Linked DNA regions of Homo sapiens: region 2 is linked to region 1. Evidence: fine-mapped expression QTL. Tissue or cell type: cerebellum. Region 1 holds a variant in brackets; the other region holds the start of a gene. All regions are shown on one strand. Distances are from middle to middle.

The links. PIP is the estimated chance that this variant, and not a neighbour inherited with it, causes the effect.
Region 2: DGCR2 starts here. The variant in region 1 is fine-mapped to the expression of DGCR2 in cerebellum (GTEx, PIP above 0.99).

Annotation. Positions count from the first base shown.
Region 1 is chr22:20,103,519-20,108,704 of GRCh38, reverse strand. DGCR8 (DGCR8 microprocessor complex subunit) reads right to left here. Exons shown (of 14, transcript NM_022720.7): 10 at 2,428-2,528; 11 at 2,007-2,113; 12 at 1,307-1,434. Among named protein-coding and RNA genes, the nearest start is that of MIR6816, 8.6 kb to the left of the region's middle. The variant C/T (reference allele first, on the strand shown) is at 2,261.
Region 2 is chr22:19,120,050-19,125,175 of GRCh38, reverse strand. DGCR2 (DiGeorge syndrome critical region gene 2) reads left to right here and starts at 2,764. Exons shown (of 10, transcript NM_005137.3): 1 at 2,764-3,048. The coding sequence starts at 2,970. It also overlaps the pseudogene TSSK1A. RefSeq lists silencers at 2,440-2,879, 3,000-3,119 and an enhancer at 2,904-3,405.

The DNA of each region.
Region 1 (5,186 bases):
ACTGACAGCAGCAGAGAGCGAGGGGCAGTCCATAGCTGCCAGGCCTTTCTGCCCACACCACGCCACTTATATGGCCTCCTGCCATGGGCAGAGTAGGGAGGTGAGGTGCTCGTGGTGCCCAGAGTCCTCATCAAGGAGTGAAACCAGAGTGTGGCCATAGCCAGTAAGAACAGCACGCTGCAGCCCAGCCCATCAGCCTCAGGCACTGAGCTCTCTGCACACTCCATGAATGCAGAGCAGCATCAGGCTGGCCTCAGCCCCTTCCCGTCTTAGGCCAGCCCCAAGGGTGCTGTGGTTCCTCGGGATGCCAGAGCTCCCCCAAGCTGTGGCTGTGCCTGGCTGGGACCTTTCCCCCTCCTGCTCAGGGAAGTTTCCCACCCCCGGGCCAGAGTGGGGCTTGCCTTCTCTCCCTCCGTCACAGCCAAGGACCATGCACAGCAAGGGCAGAAGCAAGTGCTACCTACATTTCAACTTGCTTCCCAAAAATCTCTCTCAAGTTCCTTAACATGCCCTGGTGGCCCGTGTGAGCCCCCTCACCCTCCCTTATCATGTCCAGAGTAAAGGCCTCTTCGGGGACAGTGCCGAGGCCTCGGTCTCAGGGACCTAAAGGCAGGCCCTGCTCTTGGCAGCTGGCTTGGGCAGAGGGCCCACCCACCACACAGTCCTAGGGCTGCCCCACCTGCAGGCCTAACCCCTCCACAACTACTTCCCCTTCCAATGACCAGGAGGGCAAGAACCCAGAGAGTTTCTGTAATCATTTGAGGAAAATGATTACACTCACCTCCCCATGTTACCCTCCACCCCTCAGGAGTGGGCACTGGCTTACACTGCAGGATGTTGGCCACAACAGCAGAAACAAGACAGATGGTACACATATGCTCTTCTGTTAGAGATGGACCGGCACTGGTACCAGGGAGAGCTACCCTGACACACTCGCTCTCCTTCAAGCAGGGAGAGCTGGCCCTGGCTCCTGAGCCTTTGCACACCTCCGAGCCGGGCGCACCTTCAGCATCTCCTGCCTGGCCCTGCCTTGCACTTTGGCCATCTCCCTACAAGCCACATAGCTGGGCCCAGCCTGCGTTCCCAATCACCCACACTTCACTGACCATGCCCAGCAGGCTGGGATAGGAGATGTAGCTGGGACGACCCCACCCCTGCCCACAAAGCCACACAAGTGGCCCAGGAGAGAGGCAGCTGTGAGCAACAGCAGAGCTGCCCAGCTCTGCCCCCTCTGAGCACAGAGCCTCAGGAATACGCTCCAGGGTGGCAGCACAGGCTGCCCTGGGACCTGCTGATGGCCAGTTACCTGCTTGACCATCTTGCTGCTCTCACGGCCATACATGCGCAGTAAAGACCCCCAGTTCTTGACATGTGGGTGCAGCAGCTGAAGGATCTTCTGTGAGGCTAACTGCTTTCCAACTCTCTTGTTCTTACCTACACAGAGAAAGAGCAAGCATGGAGAGGGGGTCACAAACACCCAGTGCTCATGGGGCCCCCTGCCGCTCCCAGCCCTCCTGACCCACACCCCGAGGGCCAGCCAGGGCACATTCTACAGGAATAGGCAGCACTCTGCCACTGCTCTGGGCACCTGAGTCTCACAGTACCCAGCTGCCACCTTGAGAGAGTGGCCCTCAGAGTCTAGGAGCTGAGGACACTACCACTCAAAGCCACGCAGCCGAGAGCCTCCCTCCCGCCAAGACGCACACCTCCAGAAACAGGGAGCAGCAGGATTCTGCTGGCTGTTCGAGGAGGAGGGCCTTTCCTCCTGCCACAGGGACAAGGGCTGGACGGAGACAGGGGTGACAGCGGGGGAAAGGGAAAAGACAGGGAAAGTGCAGGCAGGACGGCTGCCAGTCCGCCTTAGGCTGAACGTGTGGTGGCCAGCACACACAGCTGGGCTCAGGGACAATGCCAGGGCAACAGCTGAGACCAAGCCACAGAGGCGCAGGGCCACACCAGGGGCCGCCCGCCCAGCGGCCACCAGGCAGCAGAGAAGGAGTCCTTACACCACCCGCGCACTGTGTGCTTGCCACACGCCATGACGTATTCACTCTTCTGGTTTTTCCCAGGAACCACTTCAAACTTGATAGACGTGTCACCCATCCCATGGTTTCTTTAAGAGAAAACAGACAACAGATGGCGTCCCCTGAGCAGAGCAGCCAGCTGCCTCTGAGGAGGCCTGCTCTGGGAAGCCCTTAGGAAATGACCAAGCCTCTCCCCAGACTGCATCTCAGCCAGAGGAGGGAATTCTCCACACGCC[C/T]GATTCAGGCCTGTGGGACTGACTGGTGGCCAGGGCCAAGGGGCTGCTGTGTACCCAGGGAAACCTGGCCATGCCTCTGCCTTGGGACAAACAGCCACAAGAATATGAGACGCCAGAGAGGAGCTCCCCCGACCTGACTCATGGGGGGAGGCACCCCCCTACCCTACCTTTTAAGGCACTCGTGGAGGATCTGATATGGAGACAACAGCCCAGCCTTGCTGGTCAGCTCGTAGACCCGCGAGTCCTCGATGCTGATGTGGTTAAAATACTACAACACAAAGCAGAGGCTTGTGAGTCCCCACCAGGCCCACCGGCCTCTTCATGGCTGGGCCTGCGGTTGGCTTTCCCCAGATGCTTAATGTCTGTTCTTGTGAGCTCGCCTAGCACTTCATACCTCAACTCTGCAAGGAACCCACCGGGTACAAGACATGCTCCGTACCTCACCGTCCAGTTGCCCATCTCCAGAGCCCACAGCACCCTTCCACCCTGAGCACTGTGGGATGGAGTCTGGTATCCTAAGAGGGCCCCAGGTACATGGCTGGCTGGCCAGGCCCACCTTATTTGGATCTGATTCTGATCCATAAGGCACCCTTCTCAGAACTCTATAAAGATAAAGCACCTTTGCAGAGAGGCTTTACTATTGCCACAACTGAGACTACAGGAGAGGGAAAGTCAGCCAGACCCAAAAGCTGGCCTTAAAAGGCCCAGCTCCCCAAAGGCCAAAGCCCCACACAGCTACACAGAGCCCAGCCCCAGGTGGCCAGCAGAGGCCCAGCCCAGCAAGGCTTCCAACAGTGTCATCACCCTGGCTCTGCAGCCAACCCAAGAACACACAGGAAGGACAAGAGAGGCAGACAGGGAAACAAGAGGTGATGGGGAGATTCCACACAGTGAGGCATAGGGAAGCTGCAGCAGGCTGAGGTGCAGAGACATTGCCCACTGTGCCTTCCCAGACTAGGACTTTGGCTGAAGCTGAGAGTGCCTCCTGGGTGAAAGGAAGATGCTATCCAGCCCACTCTGGAGCATGGACAACCTCCCTGGTGGAGCTCCTGTGACAACATACCACAAAGTCAGTGGCTTAGAACAAGAGGTTTATTCTCTCACCATTCTGAAGTCTGAAATCAAGGCCTCAGCAGGGCCATCCTCTTTCAGAAGCCTCTAGGGAGCCTCTGCCAGCTCCTGGTGGCCCCGGCATCCCTTGGCTATGGCAGCATTGCTCCGATTTTCATATGGACTACTAGCCCTGCCCCTCCTCCCTCTTCTTAGAGAAACACCAGACACACTGGATCACACCACTGCTCTGCTTCAGTGTGATCTCATGTTAACCTAATTCTATCTGCAATCATCCTCTTTCCAAAAAAGACCACACTTTGAAGCACTGGAGATTACCCATCAGCCACACCCTCACAGTGCTTCCCCCACTGGCCCTGTTCTGGAGGGGTCTGCAGGGACCTGGAGCCTGCCTGGCCCATGGGCAGCGAGGAAACCTAGAATCAAATGATTCACACGCCTCGCTGTGCAGGCTCCACAGTGTGCCAAGCCCGCTCCACAGGGACACTGGCCCTACAGACAGGGCAGTGGGCAGCTCCTCTGCCCTCGCCGCTCCAGCAAGCAGCAAGGCCAACTCGCTGCAACTGCATAGAAGAGGAAGGCACTAGCCCTGAGGTTGGCAAGCGAAAAATCCTCGAGGTATGGCTTGGCTACTGTCTTCAAATAGGTCCCCAGAAGACACTGCTCCTCTCAAGTGCACAAATCAACATGGGTCTTTTTCCAGGGAAGGTCACTCACCAAGACATCAGGCCCTGGAACCTCAAGGGTTTGTCAACCAGCCAACCAATTAGCAACGTCCAGTGCTGTCGGCCCACAAGAACCCACATACCCCACGGCTTCGGGACTGGCCCTGGAGAAGCTGAGGCAGTGGCTGACACACACACAGCTAGAGAGCACGCTCAGAAGTTTCTGGCAAAAGACCGACGCCAGCCGGGCGCGGTGGCTCACGCCTGTAATCCCAGCACTTTGGGAGGCCGAGGCGGGTGGATCACGAGGTCAGGAGATCGAGACCATCCTGGCTAACAAGGTGAAACCCCGTCTCTACTAAAAATACAAAAAAAAATTAGCCGGGCGCGGTGGCAGGCGCCTGTAGTCCCAGCTACTCGGGAGGCTGAGGCAGGAGAATGGCGTGAACCCGGGAAGCAGAGCTTGCAGTGAGCCAAGATTGCGCCACTGCAGTCCGCAGTCCGGCCTGGGCGACAGAGCGAGACTCCGTCTCAAAAAAAAAAAAAAAAAAGACCGACACCAGGATGCCCTGCACCAAGCTGCCTGAGGCCACATGTGCTACTGAGGGTTAACCCGCCAGGGACAGGTGGAGGCTCCAGCTCATGAGAGCAGACAGATGGCAGAAGTGACCTGCAGACAAATCCCTGTTGCTTCTGACAAACAGCACAGGAGAAACCTAAGCAATCAGTGCCTGGCAGATGCCAAAGGACCGTGTGGGAGCACCACAGACGCCCGACACCTCTACATTCCACTATCTATATGAGATGGACCAATGCCTGGCAAGACACAAACTATCTCAGTAGCCTCAACAGCCCTACACCTGTTCAAGAAACTCAACAGTAGTTCAGAGTAGTCATAGTTATAGTTAGTAGTTCATACAGTAGTAGTTTAAAACTTTCCCATTAGGAAAACTCCAGGCCCAAATTTTAAGGAAGAAATGATACCAATCCTATATCTGTCCTGCCCTTCTGAAAAACTCAGGAGGAGGGCTACTTCCCACTTCGCTTGATGACACTACCCGTACCATGACCTTAACACCAAGAACACAGATGCAGCAGGGAACTAGCAAATTAAAGCCATTAACACATGAAAAGGAACATATACCATGCCCAAGTAGGACTTATCCCAGGAACACATTTTTAAAAAAACA
Region 2 (5,126 bases), 980 kb after region 1:
CCAGATGTCATACACCATGGGCTGGTAGGGGATGCCCTGCAGCAGCTCGGGGGCTGCATATGCCACCAACCCGCAGAAGTTCTTGCTTAATCTCTGTTGGCCACTGTCATCCCGCAGGCAGAGCTTGGAGAACCTGAAGTAGAACAGCTTGATGTTGAAGTCCTTGTCGAGGAGAAGGTTCTAACACTTGAGGTTCTGGTGCATGATGTCCAGGTCGTGGCAGTATTTAATGGCTGAGGAGAGTTGGTGGAACATCTTGCACGCCATGTCCTTGGGCAGGGCTCCCTGGCACTCAATGAACTAGTTTTTTTTCTGCCCCTGGCTGGGCTCCCAGGGCAGATCTGGGGCTGGGGGCTAAAGGCGGGGACTGGATGCCACCCTGAGCACTGGTGGCTGCTCTGAGGACAGTACAAGCAGCAGGGGCAGCACTGGAGAGTGTGGCCATTGTTTTTTCTGGCAGTGGAGCCCCTCTGCTGTGCCAGGCTCTGTGTCCAGCACTTGTTCCGGGCTATGCCCTAGGGGAGTAGGAGTCACATGACTATCCTAGCCTTGGATTTGACTTTGGCCTCATCCACCTAGAGGGAGTGAGCACCCCTTTCTCACAGGAGCCAAGTGGAACCCTGGGCCCCTCAGGATGACTTGGTAGGGCGGGCTGGTTGTCACTCATGTTGGGTTGGGTCCCCACCTGCCGTGGCCCTTCCCCCTTTTCTCTGCTCCTTCACCTTCTTCCCTAACGCTGACTGCCCACTGCCAGGCCTTTGTGCATTCTTGGTTCTCCTCCTTCCAGACAGCCTCCTTCTCCTTCCCGCTGGGGACACCCCAACTACTGTCTCCTGGAAACCAAAAATAAAACTCTAACCCCCCAGCCATCTGAATGGACCCCTCCTCTCCACCAAGGGCATTCCAAACTTAACCTGAAAAACTATTTCAGGCCGTGATAGGAAGTGGGAGTCAGGCCTCATTATCCCTCCTCCCTTCAGGTTTCAGGCACAGCTAAGCAGTGTAACATCGACACAGAGACTTGAAGACTGACAACAGACTCTGTGGCAGTAAGATACCAGCATGACAGCAGGCCCGGAAGGAAACACATATTTTACTGCAAAACAGGTTTCTTTCACATATTTTGAAGTCGCTCTGCAAAGCTGTTTTTTGTGGGGAAAATCTACATTCTGTAGAGAATCCCTATCCCTTTCAAGGTCTTTTCTCCTGAGAGAATTAACTAGAGTCTGGCACCTTTTATTTATTTTTCCTTTTTTTTTTCCTTTTTTTTTTTTTTTTTTTTGAGACAGAGTCTTACTCTGTTGCCCAGGCTGGAGTGCAGTGGCATGATCTTGGCTCACTGCAACCTCTGCCTCCCCGGTTCAAGCGATTCTCCTGCCATCAGCCTCCTGAGTAGCTGGGATTACAGGCGTGTGCCACCACGCCTGGGTAACTTTTGTATTTTTAGTAGAGATGTGGTTTCACCATGTTGGCCAGGCTGATCTTGAACTCCTGACCTCAGGTGATCCGCCCGCCTTGGCCTCCCAAAGTGCTGGGATGACAGGCGTGAGCCACCACACCCGGCAGAGTCTGGCACTTTTTAATAAGAAACATTAACAGTCTTTTCTCTGTGAAGCCTGATACCTGGAGGCTTCATTTGCCTAAGAAACTTGGTCTCCACAACCCCTTAATGTAGACAGTCCCTTTTATTGATTCCAGGTCTTTAGATAAACTCTTTGAACCAACTGCCAATCCGCATGACCTAGAAGCCCCCCTCCACCCCCCACTTTCAAGTTGTCCCGCCTTTTCCGACTGAACCAATGTATATCTTACATGTGCTGATTGATGTCTTGTCTCCCTAAAATGTATAAAACCAAGCTGTGGCCCTACCCCCTTGGGCACTTGTCAGGATCTCCTGGGGCTGTGTCCCAGGCTATTGGTCACATATTGGCTCAGAAGAAATGTCTTCAAATATTTTACAGAGTTGGACTCTTCGCCGACACTGCCCTCCAAGGTTCACCCTGTTGGTGATGACGGGAGAAGTGGCACTTGGAGCACTGTTCGCAGGGGCGCTGAGCCTCCTCTCTGCCTAGCTTTCTTTCCTGCACATGTGGCCTTCCCCTAGCCATTGTGTAGGCAGGTCCTCCAGGGAGCCGGCTTCGCTGCAGTCTCCAGGACCTGGCCTTCCCGGTCTCTCTTTGCCTGACACTCTCTTAGGCCATTCCTGTTCCTCTTTCCCCACCCTCAGAACCGGCAGGCCCTCCCTCCTCCACAGCGGTTCGGCCTTAAAAAGACCCCTTTGGGGCGCACTTTTGGGCTGCTCACGGGACCTGAGCTTGCAGGTGTGAAGACCCTTGGAGTCCCAGCCAGGTTCCCACTTCGTTCTCTCCGCTCCCCACCCGCGCGACCCCTCGGCGCCCCGCCCCATGCCCCGCGCCTTTCGATGTCCATCCTTGCCGTCCCGCGCCCGCCGTCCCTAACCGGCGTCCAGAGACCCTACTCCCTTCGGTGGCCCCGCCGCTCAGGCCCCGGCCCCGGCCCTGCCTCTCTGCTTAACCAATGGCACGCCTCACTCCGTATGGTCCCGCCCTTCCCTTAGAGCCCGCCCCTCAGTCCCCGCCCTTAGGTCCCCGCCCTCCGCCGTCGCGACCTTAGGCCTCACCCTCTTCGGAGGGCTTTGGCTCTGGCCCCGCCCCCCATCTTGACGGTCATTGGCCCGCGCCTGCGTCGCGGGCGGGAGGCGGGGCGGGGCGGCGCGGCGCGGAGCCGAGCAGGACGGCCGCCATCTTGCGCGCAGCTGGAGTCGGTGCCTGAGGTTGCAGCCGAGAGTGTGCGCCAGCCCGCGGCCCAGCCGAAGCTCTTTCCCGCCGCCTCTCCGCGCCTCGCCCAGGTTCAGCTCCGCCTGACCCTCCGCTTGGCACGGTCCCCTGACCCTCAGTCCGGCCTGGTCCGGCCTTCCAGCCGCCCCGGGGACGATGAACGGAGGATAAATGGTGCCCAAGGCAGACAGCGGCGCCTTCCTGCTGCTCTTCCTGCTCGTGCTCACTGTCACCGAGCCGCTGCGGCCAGGTGCGCCGCGCGATGGGGGCGGTGTGGGGGCTGGGCGGCGAGCGGGGCCGGGGTCGCCCCGGGACCTCCTTTCACCCGCGGCGCCCTCCTGCAGGGGCCGCGCCTGGGGCAGGGGCGGGCGGGGCCTGGCTCGCGGGCCGCCTGGCACTCTCTGCGGACGCCTGCTGGAGCTTACCTGGGCTCGCGGCGCCTCGGACTTCGTGCAGCTCTGCTGTCCAGGATGTTGCCTCTGGGCCCTTCCCGGGAGCGGCGGCGGCCAGGAGCTACGCCACGGGCGCACCCTCTCGCCAGTCCAGCGTCGGAGTCGGGCTGGGGACAGTGGCTCTCAGGGGCACCTGGTTTCACAGACGTCCTCCCAGCAGTGGCCTAGTGCCAGCCTCTCAGTCCTGGAAACTCCTCGCCTGGACAGCGGTGGTTGTGGCTGTCATTCAGTGAGACGTTGCGCTAAGGAAGTCCTCAGGTCCCACCGGGCCTAGAGGAGGCACCAGGAGTCAGCCTAGCGTTGTGTGGCCGGCGCGAGCGTCCCGGGAGCAGAGACCTCGCCACTGTGCGGGGCCCTTAGCCGTGCTGCGTGTATGTGATGAATGAGTCCGTGCTTTGGAACTCCCCTCGGAGCTAGTGTGTTCTTAAGTCTGTGGTGGGGAATCAGAACCGTGGCAACCAGGAGACCCTTTTCTACCTATTTCGGTGTACCTCCCCTTGAACTGCACCAAAAAATCAAACTCCCTAAATGCAGGGCCGATGTATCCATCAGGCACAGGAATCCTGGTATCACTTGCCCACGGTACTTTTAGTAGCCTTCGAATGTTATTTTATTTTTTTTTAAAGTCAGCAGAAAAAAAATGAACTTTTAGGTCAAATAAAATGTTTTCGTATGTATATTAATACAGTCATCTTTATACTAATACAGTGAAAAAGCATGACTCTTAATATTTCTTAATGGAGGAAAGGTCCCATGAAGGCAGAAGTGCCAGGGCCATCTTCTCTGATGACCTGGGTGTGGGAGCACGGGGTGTGTGGCCCTCTCCTGTGCCCTAGCCAGGCTCCCAGCCCAGATACACCGCACCTCTTGGCTCTGCGCTTGTGTCATCTATGTGGAATGTCTGCCTCCTCCCTAGTGCCTGCCTGGTGGCCAAGGCCCTGACCGGTGCTCAACCTGGACAGATTCAGTGATGCTTCTCTGGTCTCCCCATGTAGAGCTAGTTGCTCACTGCTTTTGGCTGCTCTCTGGGCAGCGGGATGACTAGTTGTGGGGTGGCCTTGGTAAGAACAGAAGCCAGGAAAAGGGCTACCTGTGGAGGAGGGTATCATATAGGCTCTTGGAGGTCAGAACCAATGGGTTTGTGGATTCTTGTGATTAACTTCTTTAGAAAACATATATGTACGTGTAGAGAGGTAGAAGGTCACCGTTTTCTGATTCTTGAGTCCCAGTTTTGCAGATGAGGTCACCGGGCTCAGGTGAGGCCATATTATGCCTGGCTTCTTTGGGGTGCCTCTGGTTCCAGGCCCAGCATCTCCTGCCTGGGTGATAGAGGTGACTGACGTCCCCGACTCCTTTTTCCTTGCCAGCCTTTTCACATAGCCTGCCAACTGGCCAGCAGCAACTGAGAAAGTGCCTGTGGGTGCTTGCCCCCTGCCCATCCCTAGGGAATCCAAGTGACAAGAACAAGCCCCTCCTTTTAGGAGTGCCTGATGTGGAACAGAGGCCAGGTGTAAGTCACTTGTCACACTCCTGTGTGTTGAATACCCTGGAGTGTGGGGTCCCAGAGGTGGGTGGAGGTGGCCATCTTTTTGTACCTGTGAAGCAGTGAGGGCGTCACAGGAGACCTCACACTGAGGTCGGAGTAGGGCATGGGTGGGGTGGATCTGGTAGAGGGAGCAAACTTATTCTTTCGATTCCATGACTCTCCAGATGAGAACATTGCAGCTACCCCTGGAGGCGTCTTGAGTTGCCCTGCAGAACCCGGGAGCTGCAGCTGGCTTCCTGGCTTTGGCTGGGCAGGGAGGGCAGGCCTCTGGGCCTGATGTGTTCCTTGTATGCCCGTGTGTGCCTCTTCACACATTCACCATGTGTCCTT